Linked DNA regions of Homo sapiens. The protein of the gene in region 1 interacts with the protein of each later gene in a pairwise test. Each region holds a gene or a part of one and is shown on either strand. Other genes may lie near its edges.

The links. Proteins that work in one complex are often made in the same cells at the same time.
Region 2: the proteins of FAM168B (region 1) and FAM222B interact in binary tests that used the Homo sapiens proteins (3 or more experiments, as listed by UniProt).
Region 3: the proteins of FAM168B (region 1) and PATZ1 interact in binary tests that used the Homo sapiens proteins (3 or more experiments, as listed by UniProt).

The regions. Positions count from the first base shown.
Region 1 is NC_000002.12:131,055,443-131,062,467, reverse strand, and holds part of FAM168B (myelin-associated neurite-outgrowth inhibitor), read left to right. Parts: intron 1-6,772; coding exon 6,773-6,915; intron 6,916-7,018; coding exon 7,019-7,025. UniProt on the Homo sapiens protein: Inhibitor of neuronal axonal outgrowth. Acts as a negative regulator of CDC42 and STAT3 and a positive regulator of STMN2. Positive regulator of CDC27.
Region 2 is NC_000017.11:28,762,766-28,769,790, reverse strand, and holds part of FAM222B (protein FAM222B), read left to right. Parts: intron 1-3,083; 5' UTR 3,084-3,123; coding exon 3,124-3,205; intron 3,206-7,025.
Region 3 is NC_000022.11:31,336,322-31,343,346, reverse strand, and holds part of PATZ1 (POZ-, AT hook-, and zinc finger-containing protein 1 isoform long C), read left to right. Parts: intron 1-386; coding exon 387-450; intron 451-1,663; coding exon of another isoform or gene 1,664-1,942; exon of another isoform or gene 1,943-2,668; intron 2,669-5,325; exon of another isoform or gene 5,326-5,679; intron 5,680-7,025. UniProt on the Homo sapiens protein: Transcriptional regulator that plays a role in many biological processes such as embryogenesis, senescence, T-cell development or neurogenesis. Interacts with the TP53 protein to control genes that are important in proliferation and in the DNA-damage response.

The DNA of each region.
Region 1 (7,025 bases):
TCAAAACAAAAACAAAAAAGACACCTTGGGTGATTGGATTGGGAAACCTAGGGCTAGCTGCAGGGATTTCTGCAGTGGGAGGCTTCCAGTAGAAGAAAAGGAAGACATCGTAGGTGGGCCCCTCGACTGTGTATCCTAAGGAAATGAGGCATGAAAAAGGACTTCACCTTTTTTCAGTGGCTGTGGTGGGCCAGATGAGCACTTGTGGCTGAGAGACTCCCTCTTTGGAGAGAGGTGTTCTCAGATTTTCCTCACTTTGGTTTTATACTCTGTATTAGAGGTTTGTTTGGGTTGGCAGCTTGCATCTTCTCTTCACTCTGAGCTCTTTCTGCAGTTTGAAGAGTGATAAAAAGGTCAAGGACTTTCTTATTAGCAATGTTGATGGATGTGGGTCGTGGGTTTATTGCTTGTTTTGACTTCTTTTAACAGCTTTTCCTTTTTCTTCTCATTCTTTCTTTAGTGAATCAGTTTATCAGATAGAACTGTAACTTCTTGTTGCACATTGGCTGTATATATTGAACATGTCCAGTGGCATAGTTTAACTTTTTTTCCAGCCTATGCCTAACTGCCAGGCCATCTTCCAGATCAGCATCTTTCAGACTGCTATAGAATCCTTCCTGCTGATGGCCTTTTTAAAGGCTTGGCAAAATTTTGTATTCATCTTCTTCTTCTTTTTTTTTTTTTTCGAGACAGGGTCTCCCTCTGTCGCCCAGGCTGGAGTGCATTGCCGCAGTCTCTGCTCACTGCAACCTCCACCTCCCAGGTTCAGCTGATTCTCCCACCTCAGCTTCCCGAGTGGCTGGGACTACAGTCGTGTGGCCACCAAGCCTGGCTAACTTTTGTATTTTTAGTAGCGATGGGGTTTCACCGTGTTGGCCAGGCTGGTTTCAAATTCCTGACCTCAGGTGATCCGCCTGCCTCAGCCTCCCAAAGTGCTGGGATTACAGGCATGAGCCACTGCGCCTGACTATAATTCATCTTCTAGGGGTGCGTTTGGGTGTGGTGATCCGTGGGCCCTTTCAGCTAACTTCCTTGCTTGTTCTTTTACCTCATGCATGACTGTTGTTTCCATGGAGATTTTCTGGCTAGCGTACACGCTCTCAGTTGTGTGTCAGCATCTGAAAGTACTGTATACTTTTCACCTTGCTTATTTTTACTTTTTTTTTTTTTTTAAATTTTGGAGGCGAGGTTTTGCCAGCTTGGCTAGGCTCGTCTCAACTCCTGGGCTCATGTGATCTGCCCACCTTGGCCTCCCAAAGTGCTGGGATGACAGGCGTGAGCCACCACGCCCGGCCTTCCACCTTATTAAAAAAATTGGGCCAGGCGCGGTGGCTCACGCCTGTCATCCCAGCACTTTGGGAGGCCAAGGTGGGTGGATCACAAGGTCAGGAGATCAAGACCATCCTGGCTAACACGGTGAAACCCCGTCTCTACCAAAAAAAAAAAAAATTAGCCAGGCTTGGTGGTGGGCGCCTGTAGTCCCAGCTACTCAGGAGACTGAGGCAGGAGAATGGCGTGAACCCGGGAGGCGGAGTTTGCAGTGAGCTGAGATTGCGCCACTGCACTCCAGCCTAGGCAACTGAGCGAGACTCCGTCTCAAAAAAAAAAAATTACGTATACAGAAAAGTTGAGCGGACAATACAGTGGATGTCCATAGTACCCACCACTTAGATTCCCCAGTGATCTTTCCCCATATTTACCTTATGTAAGGATGAGTGTTGTGTGGTTTTTCTTTTATTCTTGTGGAATCAATTCAGAATCCTTTGTGTCTTGTCCAATGGACTTGAGTGTAGCCCTCCCTAACATGAGTGAGGTGTGCTTTTGCCTGTCCACACTTAGAAACAGCAGGTCTCTAATTTTAAAAGTAGCTCCTATTTACATTTGCCCAGTTACCCCCTAAGTTTTAAAAAACGTTTGGAATCAGAATAATGTACTCAGCATCACATAGTGAATTTTTTATAAAGTTGAATTTATGTCTCTTATCTCTTTCAATCTGTAGCAGTCTTCCTTGTATTTTTTAATACTTTGACTTCAAAAGAGTGATTAGGAAACGTTTCAGATATTTACAGAAATACATGGGAACATAATTCCCACTCACACATTGCCTTGCTTTAGCACAAGTACATGGGAATATTCCTACTCACGGCCGGGCGCGGTGGCTCACGCTTGTAATCCCAGCACTTTGGGAGGCCAAGGCAGGCGGATCACGAGGTTGGGAGTTCGACACCAGCCTGGCCAATATGGTGAAACCCCATCTCTACTAAAAATACAAAAATTAGCTGGGTGTGGTGGTGCACGCCTGTAGTCCCAGCTACTTGAGAGGCTGAGGCAGAAGAATCTCTTAAACCTGGGAGGTGGAGGTTGCAGTGAGCCAAGATGGTGTCAGCACTCCAGCCTGGGTGACAGAGCGAGACAGCGAGACTCCATCCAAAAAAAAAAATTCCTGCTCACACATCACCTGGCTTAAGCACAAGTACATGGGAATATACTTCCCACCTACACATCACCTGGCTTTAGCAGTTACCACCTTATGGCTGATCTTTTTCATCTGGGCCCCTGCCACTTTCCTCTGTATTATTTTGAAGCAAATCTCAGACATTATATTCATCAGCTTTTTAAATATTATCTTTAAAAGATAAATTAGAACTGTGTCATTGTCACACCTAAAAATTTTTTTTATCACTACTGAGATTGTAATCAGTGTTCATATTTCCAGTTATCTGTCATGAATGTTTTTAATTGTATGAAGAAAGGGAACCCTGTGGGTTTGTTTGTTTAAACTGTTGGAAGTTTGGAATGAGATTCCCAACTTTGAAGTCTAGCATCTGTTCTCAGGATGTGACACACAGAGGGTAGCTCTATGTTTTGACATTTTTATAAAAAAAATATCATCTTGGTCAGATAAGAGTTTGGTGACTCCTGGGAGGATCTCTTTTCAGGCTAGTGGAAATATGAGGCAGAAAACTGGGATTAAGCCGTACAGTGGGGATCCCATTCGGCAGTGTCTCCTTTAGGTACAGCTGAAGGTACCCGCTGGTGTCTGGCTGCTGCATGGTGGTGGGAAATGAAAGAGGTGGTGTGGCTGGGGAGAAGGGAGCTATCCAAGATGACCCTTGACGTCCCTCATCCCCACAGTTTCTTTCATTTGAGACATCCTTGCCCCACCTGCCCCTCTCTGAGCTGACTCCTCATTGCTTGCCAAGACTGCATAAAATGCTGCTATGTTGGTGGTTTGTTTTCCTGTGATTTCTTTTCCCCCTGAAGCCAAGCACCTTATGGAGAGGGCTGGATCTGTCCTGATCATCTCCGCTGTGACAGGGCATGGCCCCATGTTGATGGTGAATAGCCTCTCTGTGTTGGTACAATGCCCCAGTCACCATTCACTAGTCACATGTGTGCCCGCCACACACCATGCTTCCTTTTTGCATTTCTTCCCTGAGTTAGCTAGTCACTTAGGGGGAATTGGACTGTCCCGGGTCTCCTGGGAGTATCAGTACATGGCCGGACACACTACCTTTTCCTTTATAATTCTTTGATGGCATTCACACTACCTTTTTCTTTATAATTAAAGAAAATGTTATACAACCTCGTTGTGGCGTAATTGGCATACAACTAAGTGTACAGATTTAAAGCTTCAGTTTGATGAGTTTTAACCTGTGTACACCTGTGAAGCTTTCCTTTTCACTTTCCTTTTTTAGCCTTCTTAAAGACGAGGAGATGAGCAGCCAGAGAAGGAAACTCTGTAACTGCTCTTGTCTTGAAACTTGCTTTTCCAAATCCTAATGGAAAATCTGCGTATTCTGCTTTCCTTTGGCCAAGCACCAGTATTAAAAAGTTGTTGTATTCAAATTTTGGCAGTGTTTCTATTTACGGTTAACATAGCGGTGAGCGAATTTCAAAATACAGGGAGCCCTGGAGGAATCTTTTCTTTCTTCAAATGGAGACTAGCTGAGGTTGGGAGTTGCTTGGTTTGGGTAGAAGGGTCAGGACTCTGGATGCAGACAAATCTGGGTGTGAGCACCCGCTTTGCTGCATAGGACAGGACCACCTGTTGTTTGGTCTGCTGCAGATCTCAGCCACAGCACCTCCCACCGTGAGACCATGAAAGGGCATGCAGGGGAGTATGAGAAGGCTGATGTTGAAGGCTTCGTGTTGCTTAATTGATACAGTGTGCAGTATTTAGGTGAAAAAGCCCAGACTTCACCACTGTGCAATATATCCATGTCACAGAATTGCACTGGCACCCCAAACAAAAGGCCCCAGACTAGTGAATTTCCCAGGGGGCCAATCATTCTCTTTCCCTTTCAAATTAAAACAAAATATATGGACCAGGCACATATATATATACAGGCTCACACCTGTAATCCTACTACTTTGGGAGGCTGAGGCAGGAGGATCATTTGAGGCCAGGAGTTCCAGACTATCCTGGCCAACATGGCAAAATCCCGTCTATACTAAAAATTACAAAAATTAGCTGGATGTGGTGGCACATGCCTGCAATCCCAGCTACTCGGGTGGCTGGGGCATGAGAATTGCTTGAACCCAGGAGGCGGAGGCTGCAGTGAGCTGAGATTGCACCACTACACTCCAGCCTAGGGAATAGAGCAAGACTCCATCTCAAAAAATAAAAATAAAAAAAAAATACACACACGTACATATTGCTAACAGCCCAGTTGTGTAAAATTTTTTAAAAATTAACTTTAATTATTATTACTATTTTTCTGAGACAGCGTCTTACTTTGTCGCCCAGGCAGAATGCAGAGGCATAATTACAGCTCACTGCAGCGTTGACCTCCGGCTCAGGTGATCCAAAATTCTTTATACTCAGCTCATTTTTTCAAACTTGAGGTATAATTTATGCACAAAACACCCACATATTAAGTGCTCAACTGGGTGGGTTTTGACAGTTGTACATGCCCATGGAACCACCACTCCAAATAAAACATGGAATACTTTGATCATCCCAGAACGCTTTCTTCGCCCTCTCCCCTCTGATTTCCGTCACCGTAGGTAAATTTCTTTGTTGTTAGGGAATAAACGGGATCATTGCTCTATGTGCTGTTCTGTTTCCAGCTTCTTTGGAAAGCTCAGCATGTTGTGAGATTCATCCATGTTTTTTCCTTTTGATTGCTGAGTAATGTTTATAGAGACATATCATGATTTATCCTTTCTCCAGTTGATGAAGATTTGGATTAGTTCCCATTTTTGGCTACTAGGAATAAGATTGAACACTTTTTACAAGTCTTTCGTGGACCTGTGTTTTCATTTTTCTAGGGGAAGTTTTGGGAGTGGATTGCTGGATGTTGCGGGATGTGTCTCTGGCTTGCAAAGTTGCACTGTCTGACACGGACAGTGTGTGAGTGCTCCACCCCTCCTGCTCTCACCCATGGGAATGTGAGATGCCATAAGCACTTGTATGGAGGTCTGATTTACATATTATAAGTTAATCCTTCTCAGTGTACAGTTTGGTATGTTTGGACAGTCATACACAGCTGTATGACCGTCACCACATTTGAGTGAATGCACTCTTTGGAAAGGTTCTCGCATGCCCCTCTGGCCCCTGGCACCATTGCTGGGGTTTTGATGACTCTGGATTAGGTTGGTCTTTCCTAGAGCTTCTGTCAGTACATGCATCCAGCATGTGTCCTTGTATCTGGCTCCTTTGACATGGTGTGGCTTTGTGATTCATTCATGTGCTTGTATGGATCAGCAGTTTGTCCCTTTGGCTTGCTCAGTAGGATTTGTATGGATGCACCACAGTGTGTTTACCCATTTGTCTCCTGGTGGGCATCTGGGCCATTGCCAGCTTTTGATCATTGTGAATATAGCTGCTGTGAACATAGCTGTCCAGAGACCCTCTCCCTCCCCTGAGACCAAACCCCTCTTCTCTGTTGGGGTCAGGAAGGGACACCTAACTGCTTATTCAGCAAACTCAACCACTCTACTAGATGGGGTCTCTTTATCTGCTTCTGGAGACGGGTTGGTGGCCAGCAGTTTGCAGGGCTTTGGGGAACGGCTCTCTTGGTGCCAGCTGCTCCTCGCTGCTGGCTGAGTGCCTTCTTCTCGAGTCTGCTCAATCATCCTCCACTTCAGCTTGCCAGGCTTCAACATGCTGTCTTCTCTTCCATTCTTGGTGAGTTTTATGTCTTTTTTCTCTTAATCTGCTTTATTGTCATTTTCATGTCATTTTGTGTGGGGACAAAAGCAAGTATGTGTGTTCAGCTTTCTCCCTTAACCCAGAGGGCTTTTTACCATAGAGTGCTTAGCCAGTCCTGGTGCTGGGCAAGTTTCTCCTGTTTTTGCTGTAACAAACAACACTATGATGAGCATGCTTACAGTTAAGTCTCTGTGTGTGTATAGATCCATGTGTATTGCTTTAAGACAGACTTCTAGAAGTGGAATTGTGGGATTAAAAGGCATATATACTTTAGATGCCAAGTTTAGCCCCAGGAATGCCATACCAATTTAAATTCCAGCAGGACAAGACAGTTTTTATTTCCTGTCCTTGTGTGAGCATTCCATCTGTAGAACGTTCTCTTTTGGTATTTTTTCCTCCTCCCCAACACCCTGCCACCACACACACGTGCATGCACACACGTACACAAAGTAAGAATGAAGTCAGATCTTAGTGGAGGAGAGTGGGGGCGGCAGTGGCAGCAGGTCTGGCGAGTTGCGTGGGGCTGACACGCAGCTTAGCTCCTCCCTGCCTGTGTCCTCTCCCTGCGCCTGGACCGGCTTGGGTGAACTCAGGCCATTGCCTTCTTTGTTCCAGGTTACACTCCTGGCACACCTTACAAAGTGTCCTGTTCCCCCACCAGCGGGGCTGTGCCACCGTACTCCTCCTCCCCGAACCCCTACCAGACTGCCGTGTACCCTGTGCGAAGTGCCTACCCCCAGCAGAGCCCGTATGCACAGGTATGCTTGGGTACACACTGCTGTGTGGGAAGGGGTGATACCACCTGGGCGTTCATCCTTTGGCCCTGGGACCCTGTGTCAGTTGTCTCTCTTCTCCCCACAGCAAGGCA
Region 2 (7,025 bases), on another chromosome or scaffold:
AAACCATGGTGAGACCATGGTGGCTGGAAGTAAGTCAGCAAGAGAGGGCAGGGTAGGTCAGAAGGTGAGGTCAGAGAACCAGTAGTAATAGATCATGGAGGGCCTTGGGGTCCATGTTAGGATTTTGTATTTTATTCTTAGATGGAAAGTCATTAGAGATATTTAAGCTGCTCTGACTTTCAGTTAACAGAATTGGCCGGGCGCGGTGGCTCACGTCTGTAATCCCAGCACTTTGGGAGGCCAAGGCGGGCGGAACACGAGGTCAAGAGATCGAGACCATCCTGGCCAACATGGGGTGAAACCCCGTTTGGGCCAGGCACGGTGGCTTACGCCTGTAATCCCAGCACTTTGGGAGGCCGAGGCGGGCGGATCATGAGGTCAGGAGATTGAGACCATCCTGGCTAACACTGTGAAACCCCATCTCTACTAAAAATACAAAAAAAAATTATCCGGGCATGGTGGCAGGCGCCTGTAGTCCCAGCTACTCGGGAGGCTGAGGCAGGAGAATGGCGTGAACCCGGGAGCGGAGGTTGCAGTGAACCGAGATCGCACCACTGCACTCCAGGCTGGGGAACAGAGCAAGACTCCATCTCAAAAAAAAAAAAAAAAAAAAAAAGAACTAACATTGCTGAATAGAGAATAGATTGGGTGATAAAGGGTAAGCGTGGAACAGACCATTTAGAAGGCTAATAGTAATCCCATCTAGAGATGATGAGATGACAGGTGAAGTTTGTTACCTGTTTCCAAGGCTTGAGAGACTCAATTAAGAAAACATCACTAAAGCCCCTCATACAGCCCATTTCACAGTTTTAGCTCCCAGTACTTGTTAATTCTCTTCCTTTCCTTGGAGTTTGCCTTCAGCTGTGTTAGGGTCTTAAGGGAGAAGTTATTATGTAAAGATCAGCATCCAGACCCCAACAGAAGTCTCTCTTTTTTTTTTTTTTTTTTTTTTTTGAGACAGAGTTTTACTCTTGTGGCCCGGGCTGGAGTGCAGTGGCGCAGCCTCTGCTCACTGCAACCTCTGCCTTCTGGGTTCAAGCAGTTCTCCTGCCTCAGCCTCCTGAGTAGCTGGGACTACAGGCATGCGCCACCATGCCCAGCTAATTTTGTATTTTTAGTAGAGACAGGGTTTCACCACGTTGGCCACGCTGTTCTCGAACTCCTGACCTCAGGTAATCTGCCCGCCTCGGCCTCCCAAAGTGCTGGGATTACAGGTGTGAGCCACCGTGCCCGGCCAAGACTTTTTTTTTTTCTTGAGGCACTGAAGTTGGCTCACTGTGTTCATTCTGTTTTCCCACCCACCAGAGATCTTAAAAAGACTGACGCTGTGCCAGAACTCTTGGACAGCTCTGTTCTCATTAAGGCATTCAATCTTCAGTTCTTTCTGCAGTTGCTATCTTAGACACAGTTTGAGCAGCCTCTTTTACAAAGTGTCTTTTCAGCTACCTGGTCTTGGAAGCAGGAGCCCTCTGATACTCATCATGACAAGGTAGTTTAATATACCTGAGAGAGCCCTCTCAAGAAAATAAGGAGATTTTTGTCGTCTTTAACTTTTGAGCTTTTCCCCCACTCCTTTTTTGCTGTGATCTAAAGCCATAATTTGCCACCTTGGTTTCTGAAATATGGGAAAAGAAGTTCGTGTACTTATTTAGGAAAATCGTATTTCTGTTACCTAAGGAGCTTGCATTGTTGACAGGGCTTCTTTCGCTACAGAAGGCCCCATCAATGTCTGCTTGCTTGGGCTGTGTATGTCTGGTTGGTAAACATCACTAATGAAACTCGTGCGGTCTTGACATGTCAGGATTGCCTGCACGAAGAGAGCTGCTGGCAGCCTTTCTCCTTGCTTTAGTCTGGGAGCAATGCATTTCTTTTGAGGGGGTGGGAGAGGTAGTTCAGGAGGTCTAATTGCATGTCAGGAAGGGTGAAGCCCCAGAAATTTGCAAACAGAATTTGCTTTAACAGTGGTTAATTGTGCCTCCTAGGATGCTTTCCTCCTTCCATTTAAAAGTGAGTTCGGCCGGGTGCGGTGGCTCATGACTGTAATCACAGCACTTTGGGAAGCTGAGGCGGGCGGACCACCTGAGGTCAGGAGTTTGAGACCAGCCTGACCAACATGGTGAAACCCCATCTCTACTAAAAGTACAAAAATTGGCTGGGCATGGCGGCATGCGCCTGTAATCCCAGCTGCTAGAGAGGCTGAGGGACGAGAATCGCTTGAACTCAGGAGTCAAGGGTTGCAGTGAGCCAAAATTGTACCACTGCACTCCAGCCTAGGTGACAGCAGAACTCTGTCTTAAATAAATAAATAAATAAGTAAATAAATGTAAGTTCATGGCCGGGTGCAGTGGCTCACACCTGTAATCCCGGCACTTTGGGAGGCCGAGGTGGGCGGATCAACTGAGGTCAGGAGTTCGAGACCAGCCTGGCCAACATGGTGAAACCCCGTCTCTACTAAAAATACAAAGAAATTAGCCAGGCGTGGTGGCGGGTGCCTTTAATCCCAGCTACTCGGGAGGCTGAAGCAGGAGAATCGCTTGAACCTGGGAGGCAGAGGTTGCAGTGAGCCAAGATCGCACCATGGCACTCCAGCCTGGGCAACAAGAGTGAAACTCCGTCTCAAAAAAAATAAAATAAAAGTGGGTTCATATTACTGGCTCACAAGTCAGACATTGGGTACCTTTGCAATCATATAATGTGCTGCTTCTGAAAATGTCTGGCTGGTCTCCAACCAGGCCTATAAATGGGCTGGCTGAGCCAGGCCCTATGAGGGCCCACTCTCCTCAGGAATACTGAGACATTATAAATGCACCTGTACTTTCCAGTTGTATGAATAGGTGCTTTCCAGTTTTATTTCTCCCATCCATACATCTGTGGTAACTGAAAAATCATTTTAACCATAGTGATATTTGACAGCAAATTGTCGTCACAGATAAAGATGTAAGTATACTTTCAACCAACACACTGCTAATTAAATTGCTTTATGTGTCTAAACTTGGGCCTCACGCCAGTCATATCCAGTGTTCCTACTCTCTTCTTCGAATGAGTTGCCTTGTGTTTCATGACCTTGTTTTTGTTCATTACAGTGTGAGCCACTGCCCCATGTTGTGTTGATGCCAATCTGCCATGCTAGCCTGTCTACCAGGGCCAGGTGACCTGTCCTTTCAGCTTCTTTCTCACACGCAGATGAACACTGGACTTCAGAAATGTAAGTAATCTGGATCCTATGGAGCATGTGTGATTCTTTGTTTTTGTCTCTACATTTGGGCCGTCCTTGAAGCACATCTGGGGTACACTGACCTTGAATTTTGACACCTTTCTTTTTTTTTTTTTTTTAAGACGAAGTCTTGCTCTTGTCACCCAGGCTGGAGTGCAATGACGCGATCTTGATTGGCTCACTGCAACCTCTCCCTCCCGGGTTAAGCAATTCTCTTGCTTCAGCCTCCCGAGTAGCTGGGATTACAGGTGCCCACCACCATGCCTGGCTAATTTTCTATTTTTAGTAGAGATAGGGTTTCACCATGTTGGCCAGGCTGGTCTCAAACTCCTGATCTCAGGTGATGCCCCTAACTTGGCCTCCCAAAGTGCTGGGATTACAGGTGTGAGCCACTGTGTCCAGCCATTAGGGGTCTGCTTAAATTCTGTAATTCCCCATTGTATCTCAATTTTAATTGTTGCTGATAGCTTTCTGTTGAACAACAAAACTATAAAGAGCTTCAGGGGAAATATATATATATATATCACCCTTAAAAAAGGTGTTTCAGTTTGAACCTTCATAGGGAATTGAATGAAAACTCACAGTCCAGATTACTTACTATATCTCTGAAATAAACTATGCTGTTCTCTTGTTTTGAACTCTCTTAGTAGTCTACCATGGAAACAGACAGTTCCCTTTGGCTTTGCTACCTGCCTTCTGAGTCAGTGTGACTTTAGTTCACAGGAAGTCAGGGAGCTTTTGCCCTCAGAAGAGATGGAGAGCTAGCTTTCTCAGTCTCTCTGGGCATTTTCCTGCTAATACACTTCCCAGAAGATTGAGCCTTTGAAAACTGTTAGATTCTTGTCTTAACTTTCTGGAATTGGGGTTTTATACTTCATATTTTCCCGGACTCCTTCCTACCTTCTCTCCCTGTAATACATGATCTGCAAGGAAAATATTCTATTCTTGGCACATTACCATGTATAGTATCTTCAGGTGTAAAAACAGCCCTAAATTTGGAATAGACCTTCCATTCAGAGCACAAAGGGGAAATCATTGAGGTGGCTAGGCTTCCCTTTGATAGGAAAGGTGCTTCAGCACCTTAACTGAACCCCTTATGACAGGGGTTAACAAACTTTCTGTAAAGCCCAGATAGCCAATAATTTAAGCTTTGTGGGCCATGTGGTCTCTGTTGCATCTACTCAACTCTGGCATTGTAGGGCAACGGCAGCCACAGACAATAAACAAATGAGGGTGTCTGTGTTCCAGTGAAACTTTTTTACAAAAAAACAGCAACTGGACCAGGCACGCAGGCTGTCGTTTGCCAGCCCCTGCCATGTGAGAACATCATCAGAAGTTAAAAATGGTCCAGCCTTTAGACTTCATTTCTTTGAGAGAGCGTAAGACTCAGAGCCTGGCTAGTTCTGGAATTTGGCCAGTGAATCCAGCTCTATGTAATAACAGCTGAAGGTGGTAGTCCTCCTTCTACAGTTGCCTGACACAATAAGGCAAGCTCTGCTATAGCTTTCTCAACCCATCCTTTATCTTAATAAGTGATGATTGGGTGATGAAGGTGTTATGTTATACTCTCTGGTCATCCAAATCAGCATCCTAACTGCATCGTGCCTATTTCTGGGCTTCTGGGGACACAACTGGAGAGGGAACGTACTTAGAGGCATGCAGTAAGATGACAAAGAGAAGCTTCCTTTGTTCTGGGTTCCTTAACACACTCTGACAGCTTTACCCAAAGATGTGATATCAAGGGAAAAGCCATTTGGAGGACGGGCAAATTGGCAGCTTTATCTTGGTGTTCACTTTTATTATTTTTATTTTTTTTTTAATTATTTTTTTTAGATAGAGTTTTGCTCTTGTTGCTAGGCTGGAGTGCAATGGCGTGATCTCGGCTCAACGCAACCTCCGCCTTCTGGGTTCAAGCGATTCTCTACCTCAGCCTCTTGAGTAGCTGAGATTACAGGCATGCACCACCACGCCCAGCTAATTTTGTATTTTCAGTAGAGACAGGGTTTCTTCATGTTGGTCAGGCTGGTCTCGAACTCCCGACTTCAGGTGATCCGCCTGCCTCGGCCTCTCAAAGTGCTGGGATTACAGGTGTGAGCCACCACACCCAGCCCACTTTATTTTATTTTATTATTTTGAGGAGGACTTTTGCTCTTGTCACCCAGGCTGGAGTGCAGTGGCACGATCTCGGCTCACTGCAACCTCCGCCTCCCAAGTTCAAGTGATTCTCCCGCCTCAGTCTCCTGAGTAGTGGGATTACAGGCATGAGCCACCATGCCCGGCCCTTTTTTTTTTTTTTTTTTTTTTTGAGATGGAGTCTCCCTCTGTCACCCAGACTGGAGTGCAGTGGCGCAATCTCGGTTCACTGCAACCTCCATCTCCCGGGTTTAAGCAGTGCTCCTGCCTTAGTCTCTCGAGTAGCTCAGATTACAGGCATGCGCCACTGGAAATTTTTTCTTTCTTAATCCTAAACCTCTGCTCTGTATTTCCCCTTCTCAGGATCACAATATAGTAGTGGCTCTGTAAATATTTACTGTTTGAATAGCTGATAAAAGGTCCTTGGTCCTTAAACCATCTTCAGATAACAACTTTGATTTCCTTCCATGGCAGAACACTGGGGCTCTGGGGACAAATGCCAAAATTACCTTCTTTTACTGCTTCTTTATGTGCATATCTGCCCCCTAGTGGAGGGGTCTGGAAATGGCAGATTGACCCAATGACTGGATAAAGTCATAGAAATAATAGCTAACATTTGTCAAGTTGCTACCATGTGCCAGGCACTATATTGAATATTTTCACATATGTTGTCACCCATTCCTCAAAAATTCCATATGGAAGACTCTCTTGCCTTTGTCAGAAGGATAAGGTATAGAGAGAGGGTTTGTCACTTGCCAGTGCCACATGACAGTCCTGTGACTGGCCCATACTCAGCTCAGACTCTGAAATCTGTGTTTGAACACATTGCCTGTGCCTCTCTGCCTACAGATAGAGGTTCCTGTTGCCTATGCCACCTGTGCCCTCTGACCTTCAAAACAGAAGGATGAACAGAGAGGTCTCCATTGGGAGGACTGAATTTCAGGCAGAAAATTGCCTCCAGTCCATCCTGGAATAGACAGCAGTGCTTTCTGTTACATTTAACTCTCAGGCTGAAGGCCAGGTTGTCCTGCAGTTGGGGCTTCCTTAGTCAGTTTTCTTTGTGTTGTCTGTGGTCAGACTCAGCCACATCTGCTATCCTTGAATGGTAACTATTGACCATCATTGTTTCATTTTCAATGAAAATGCTCATTTAGTGAAAATGTTCATTGACTCTCGATCTTAGTAATTCTGTGAAGTAGGAGAGCAGAATTCATCCCTGTTGATAATTGAGGAATGACAGGCTCTCAGTATGGGCAAATGATGAAGCTAGTACTTGAATACAGGTTTCTCTAACCCTTTACAAACTACAGATTTCCTATTCCCTACATTGTCTATGTCTCTATTAATGACACTATTGGTATAAGCTATTTAAGTAAGTCGCTTACAAAGCTGTGGTATCTGTGTTGGCTGTGTAGTTACAGAAATACATTACAGAAGAAAATAAGTAGTCAGGGTGCCTGTGTGGGGGCTGTGATAAGTGTTGAGAAAACTTTTTTTTTTTTTTTTGAGACGGAGTCTTACTCTGTCACCCAGGTTGGAGTGCAGTGGTGCGATCTTGGCTCACTGCAACCCTGCCTCCCGGGTTTAAGCAATTCTTTGCCTCAGCCTCCCGAGTAGCTGGGATTACAGGCACCTGCCACCATGCCCGGCTAATTTTTTGTATTTTTTTAGTAGAGAC
Region 3 (7,025 bases), on another chromosome or scaffold:
TTTCTAAGGGGCTTTAGTCTGGACAATGAATCACATATCCCCTCCTGGAAAGGCTGCAGTGAGGCAGCTCTGTTTCATTCTACTGCCACCGCCTCTGGTCCTAGAAAACACTGAGTTTCTGGTGGGGAGAATTGAGGGAGTGGGGAGGCAAAATCAGAGACAAATGCCCATTTCTCTTCCCCCCTCCAGAGAAAACCAGGGCAGAGAGGCCTGGGCCTGTGGAGCCAGAACTGGGTGGTGACTTTGTCTTTGTCATGCTGGGGTTGGGGAGAGGGAGTCCTTTCCAGCAGTGAGTGTGTGTGTGTGTGTACACACGTATGCATATGTGCCTGTGTGGTGGGGTCTGGCCAAGTTTCTAAAGTCCCTCTTGGTTCTCTCTTTTCCAGGCCTGATCACTTGAACGGACATATCAAGCAGGTGCACACTTCTGAGCGGCCTCACAAGTGTCAGGTAGGGGCTGGGTCAGGGCAGAGATGGGCTGAAGGAGATGATGCTGTTCTCACGGTCGCAGCCTTGAGCCAGCCGCTGCGTGTGCCGGGGGCCCGGCTGACCGCCCACCGCTTTGCACACCTCCCCTCTGTTCCTCCACCCTCCCTCTGCTCTCCTCCTTTGTTCTTCCCCCAGGCCCCCTTCCCCCACAGCTGACGTTCCTCCTTCCTGGTTGCTTGGTCCTGGTTCCCACCCTGTCTTTGCCTTCACTCTGTTGCTTGGCTTTCCTCTCCTGGTGTTTGCCGGCTCCTTGGATGGTGGGCCGTATCACACAGATGTTGTGTTGGGAGACCCGGCACTGCGCTGGGCCTGACTGTTGGTTTCCAGCAGTTTGTAGGGACTGCAGGTTTTTTTAAAAGGGCTCCTGGTGGTCCAGCCAACCACTCTTCCCCTTTTCTGACCTCAGTTAGAGCTCCTCCTGGGTCCCCTCAGCTTAGGGCACAAGGCAGTGGGGGAGGTAGGAGGTAGGGAGTGGGTGGTCCCCTCTCCCACACTGGCATCTGTTTAACCCATCCTAAGCCAGGGTTTCTGGAGGACTGGAGAGCAAAGTGGGCTCTTCTTCTTTTAGCTCTTTGCAAAGTAGCAGGTAGGAAACGCTGGACCAGATAGATTCTCACCCTTGGTTTACCTGCTTGAACAATATCTGGGGGCCCTGCTGGTACCCAAAAGATTGAGTTTCCTCTCCTGGCCACTGAGCCTTCCTGTGTGGATAGCGAACACACCTCTGTCTTCTCCTTGGTTATCTCCCCTCTCCCATGCCAAGTTCCCATCAAGTGAGGGCGAGCCATGATTGTGGGGTGTGCACTGCAGTCTCTGATAGGATAACCTGCTTCTCCTTATCCTGTTGGTGGCAAGGGGAGAGGGTTCAGGGAGACCAGCAGGGAGGGATGAATGTGCCGTAAGTAGGGCAGAGCCCCTGGGGGTCAGGCGTGGACGGTGTTCACAGGTGCTGGGCTAGGCAGTCTCCCTGGAGGATGACCCAGGGTGGGCCTGCTGGGATCTGTCTTTGCCTTGCTGCCTTCTCTCTCTCTGTCTCTGATTCTCTCATCACAGAGCACATTCTGACTCAGGTAGTGTGCTGATTAGCCCGGGCAGAGTAGGAGGAGCCCAGAGGGCAGTGGGGGCAAGCCCGGTGGCCTGGGGGGGTAACCTGCACTCTCTGCCCTTTTTCCAGGTGTGGGTTGGGAGCAGCAGCGGCCTGCCGCCCCTGGAACCTCTTCCTAGCGACCTGCCATCATGGGACTTTGCCCAGCCTGCTTTGTGGAGGTCGTCCCATTCGGTTCCTGACACCGCCTTTTCCCTTTCTCTAAAAAAATCATTCCCAGCCCTTGAAAACCTGGGCCCAGCACACTCCAGCAACACTCTCTTCTGCCCAGCCCCGCCGGGATATCTGAGGCAGGGCTGGACCACCCCAGAGGGCAGCAGGGCCTTTACCCAGTGGCCTGTTGGCTAGCCTGGGCCTCCCTGGAGAGGGTTGACAGTGGAAGGGAACAGGAGGGGCATTTGGCCTGAGACCCCTGCTTTTGGGAGAGGCTAGCAGGGTGGTTCCTGCCCAGCATGCCCAGCTCCTCCCTGGGTGACTCGGAGTCTTTCCCATGTCAGAGCCCCCAAATGGGGGTAGCAAGGAGCACCTTTCTGGAACCCCCTATAGCATCCAAGTTTCTTTCTGGGCTCTCTTGCCTTTTCCCCCCTTTCACAGATGGCACCCCTGGGCATCTGTCCTTGCCTAGGTGATTTTGGAGGTTGGTGCCTTCCTGGGAACTAGCCACCAGCTTATCTGCTTCCCTTCCCCTGGCATCACTTCCCATAGGCCTGGGGTTTCTAGACTGGGGCCTGGCCACCCCTTTCCCCACTCCACGAGTGAGTCGGCCTCCAGAGAAGACTGGCACAATTCCAACTAGAGTCAACCCATGCTGCCCTCTGCCCTTCCCACTCAGATCTAGATCCTGCTTTCATTTCTGGCTAGTGAAGTAGACTTTTGTGTTTTTGAGGTTTATTAGCAGGTCTGCTCAGGAACCAAACTAATGAGTAGCTTTATATTGGGCCACCCCAATATATGGCTTTGGGGGCTGAAAAAGCAGATGTAGACCCCCTCCCTCGGATCCTTATTGGTGTGCCCTTTAGCACTCCGCAGACTCTGCGGGGTGAACAGGAGTGATGATAAAATTTTTCATTCTAACATTTGAGGCTTTGTGTGTTTTGTCCTTGGTCTGTGTCATAACACTGACATCACTGTCCCTTGGTGTACAAATGCGCTCCTGCCCTGCCCCTCCCAACATACACTCTCACAGACCTGCTGGCCCCTCCTCCAGCCCTACAGCCACAACTCCCCTAACGGACCCAGCAGGTGAAGACATGCTGGCTCTCTTGCTCTGGGCTGGCCAGCCAGGTGTGCCTGGACTTGGTTAAACAGCAGGGGCACCTGTTGGCATAGTGTGGGGATGCTGAAAACATAAGAGGTGAAGAGACGGCTCTCTGGGAGTTCATTCCTTGAGTTCCCCACTGGCTAGGCACAGTCCGTATCGCTCATCCCCTCCTGATGCCAGAGAGAATGAAAGAGGCCAGTTACAGAGACTAGTGCCATAGCTTAAGTAGAAAGGCCATCTGAATGTAGGGGCAGGAAGCCTCAGGCTTGACAGTGGCATGTCTCTTTGGGACTTGGCCTGAGTGTCCTTAACTGGCCCAGATGCCCCAGGTACTGCTGGATTTATGAGCTTAGTGGGCTGGGACATTTCCCCCACATGGAGTTCAACCTGAAGCTGAGAGGCTGGAGCAGCTCAGACCTCCCTAGCTTCCACGGGCTCCACTTCTTGGGGGCTGGTTAGAGAAGGAATGCGTTGAGATGGGCATATGCTCGAGAAGAAGGGGGCCAAAGAGCCCAGGGAGCTGAACCTTCATGCATTGCCCTTAGAGTTTTCCAGGGCTGTGGGAGAAAGCTGCTTGAGACTACCCCTGAGGCTGCCTGAGTTCAAGGGCTACTAAGGGTGGGGGTGTGCACTAGTGCCCTTGGTACCACTTGGGCCCCATTCCCAAGCTGCTCAATCCTTAGGAAGAAAAGCTTTAGGAAGTCTGGGAAGGGAGCAGGACTGGGGCTCAGTGTTGAGTGGTGATGACCTGCACTCAGGGTGCCTGGGCCAGGACCTGGCAGGCATGGCCCTTAATTACAGCAGGCTGTCTAACTAAGCACAGGGCTGTGGGCCGGGCAGCTCTTCCGAGTGCCACAGGCAGTCAAAGCATTCTGCCTCTGGCTCACTCTCTTCCCATCAGCGTCCCTCTGTCTTCTCCCTGTCTCTAGGACAAAGAATGCTCTTCTCCTGACACCCCAGCATGGAAGTTCTGGATGTTCCCTTTGAGATCTGTCTCCCTCCGCCCCTTCTCTCCTGGGTTGTGTGACCAGGCTCTTTCATGTTCTGTGTTGTCTGAACTTCTGCTGTGCCTAGACTTTGGACTTTCACAGGCTCCCCAGAAAACCTGGGGACTGCAGCAGCAGAGGGTCAATCCTGGCACAGAGAAGCCAACAATCACTTCAGCTTGGCTTTGAACACAGGGAAAGCGTTTGTCATGTTTGTGTTTTTTCCCCCAGCAGCAGATTTACATTCCTAATTCTGTTTGCTCAGGCGAAAGTTAGCTTTCATTCCTTGAGAGATAATCAATGGAGGACAGGGTGGGGGAAGCCAGCCCAGTCTGGGATTTTAATTTTGCTTAGCTAATCCCCAAATGGATAAGCCACTTGTGGGTAACTGAAGTTTGGCTATCCATCATCTTTAGGTAGCAAAGCATGACAGGCAAAGCCTTTAGAGGACAGATCCCAAAAGAAGGTTGGCAAGAGAAACAAGGCATCTCTTTCCTATCCCTCTTGTGGCTCCCTCTCCCAGAGACTGTGGAAGACAAAATCCTGAATATGCTTTCAGCCCCCGAGTAGCTGGGACTACAGGCGCCCACCACCATGCCCAGCTAATTTTTTTGTATTTTTAGTAGAGACGGGGTTTCACCATATTGGCCAGGCTGGTCTCAAACTTCTGACATTGTGATCCACCCGCCTCGGCCTCCCAAAGTGTTGGGATTACAGGTGTGAGCCACTGCGCCTGGCCTCAGCCCTGTTTTCTTACACCTGATCCATGTTGGTTCCTTTGAGTTCTGAGGCTTAGAACACACCCTCTCTCACCATTGGAGGGGTGGTCTTTGGGTCGCTGCCTGGCAAAGCTAGCTCTTGTCCCCAAATAAATCAACAGGTGTACCTCTCTTTCCCGGGGGTGTTTATGCAGCCCCTGCTCTGGTTTAGAGACTGCTGGGCTGTGTAGAGGTTAGGAGTTTTTTTCTCCTACTGTGGCCTGTCACTGGGTCATGAGGTCCCTGGCTGACGTGGGGCCCACATGTGGCCATGAGAGCAAGCATCCATGGTGCTTTCTGACTTCCTACATGCTGGAATTTCCTTGCACAAATCTGTTCACCTTTCCCTTTTGGGAGTCCTGGCTGCCAAGTACTGTACACTGTGTTATAAAGTATGAGCACCTTTCACTCAGCAGAAGCTCCCTCTCCTGAATCTGGAGATGGTAAGAGCACAGGCTCTGGGACTGGTTCTTAGTCCAGCTGTCTCATATCCTCTCACGGCCTCCACTGGCCCAGCTGTAAACTGGGAGAGATCAGAATCCCCCAGGGTGTCCAGGAGGATTGGTAAAGTACTGGCCTGGGTGTGGTGGGGGTGGGTGTGCTAGACTTTCTTTAGTAGCTGAGTCTTGTGTTTTAAGCAAGTTCACCTTCTGAAGGTTTCCTCATTTATGATATGAATACACTGAATATATAAAACAGATAAAAGCAGTATGTCATTGCTACAAATTCAGTTCAAATGTATAATGTTTACTTAAAAAGACAATGACAGAAGAGCTAGGTAGGCTGTGCTAACGTACACAGATATTTGGGACTGGGGTAGTAAACAGTGGTGTCTTCTACCTTGACAGCATTGCATGCGTTTGTTTCTTGCTATGGCTGTACAGTAAGGAGACAGTTAGATGTCTGTATGTGTTGACAGTGTTCAGCCACTTACCTTGAGCTCTCAGGTTCTCAGGATGTGCTTCTGTTAAAGAGAGATGGCAGAGGCAGTTCCGTTCTAGCACAAGGTAATGGGGTGGTCTTCAGTGGGTTACCATTTGATCTGTGACACAAAGGTGAATGTTGCTTTCTCTTACAGTTCTAAAACAGTAAACACACACACACACAAAAGAAATGAGTCAAAATTGACTAGAACCCATGAAACACCTCCCTGGAACCAAAATAGCTTGAAAGCCAACGGATTCAGCTCTTCTCAGGGCTTTCCCAATATTCTATGACCCCCACAGCTGGAATGCCTTTGTAAGCTCCAGCTGAGGAAGGGATGTTGTGAGGAGACTGATCACTGGTACTAAGTCAGGTGCTCAGGTACAGGAAGTGCCTGCCAACCTGAGTCCTCCTTCCAGGGTGCTGGTTCTGACCTTCAGCTCCTGACTCATCCAACCCCGGGGGCCTGGCTGTGAGTTGGTGCTCAGCTCACACCACAGCTTTCCAAAGCCACGCTGTCTTGGAGGGTGATCACACAGCTTGCCTCGGAGGGCTGCTGTCAGGATGGGTTGCATGAGATAAGTGCCTCTAAAAGGCTGAGCACCGTGCCTGCCTGGCACACAATGAATGCTTAATCAATACAGGGTAGTATCATCATCCTTGCTGTCACCAGCACTTCCCCAGCTTAACGTTTCACAAATGCTTTTTTTTTTTGAGACGGAGTCTTGCTCTGTTGCCCAGGCTGGAGTGCAGTGGTGTGATCTCGGCTCACTGCAAGCTCTGCCTCCCGGGTTTATGCCATTCTCCCGCCTCAGCCTCCCGAGTAGCTGGGACTACAGGCACCTGCCACCATGCCTGGTTAATTTTTTTGTGTTTTTAGTAGAGACCGAGTTTCACCGTGTTAGCCAGGATGGTCTTGATCTCCTGACTTCGTGATCCGCCCGCCTCAGCCTCCCAAAGTGCTGGGATTACAGGTGTGAGCCACCGCGCCCGGATTTTTTTTTTTTTTTTTTTTTTTGAGAGGAAGTCTTGACTTGTTGCCCAGGCTGGAGTGCAGTGACACGATCTTGGCTCACTGCAACCTCTACCTCCCAGGTTCAAGTGATTCTCCTGCCTCAGCCTCCCAAGTAGCTGGGATTACGGGAGTCTGCCACCACACCCGGCTAATTTTTTATATTTTTAATAGAGATGGGGTTTCACCATGTTGGCCAGGCTGGTCTTGAACTCCTGACCTCAGGTGATCCACCCATCTCGGCCTCCCAAAGCGCTGGGATTACAAGCATGAGCCACCGCACCCGGCCCACAGACACTTTTGAAGCCTCTGGCCCTTGCTGTCTGCTAATTCTCATGTCGTCAGAATTGCCACTATCATTTAATGGGCTGCTTTTTCAATTCAAACTCGTGAAAATATTACGAATAATTATCTCTGCACTTTGTCCTGCCTTTCCTTTCCATTTCCCTGGCCAAGACTAATGTCACTTTTGAATAAAATGAACAAATAT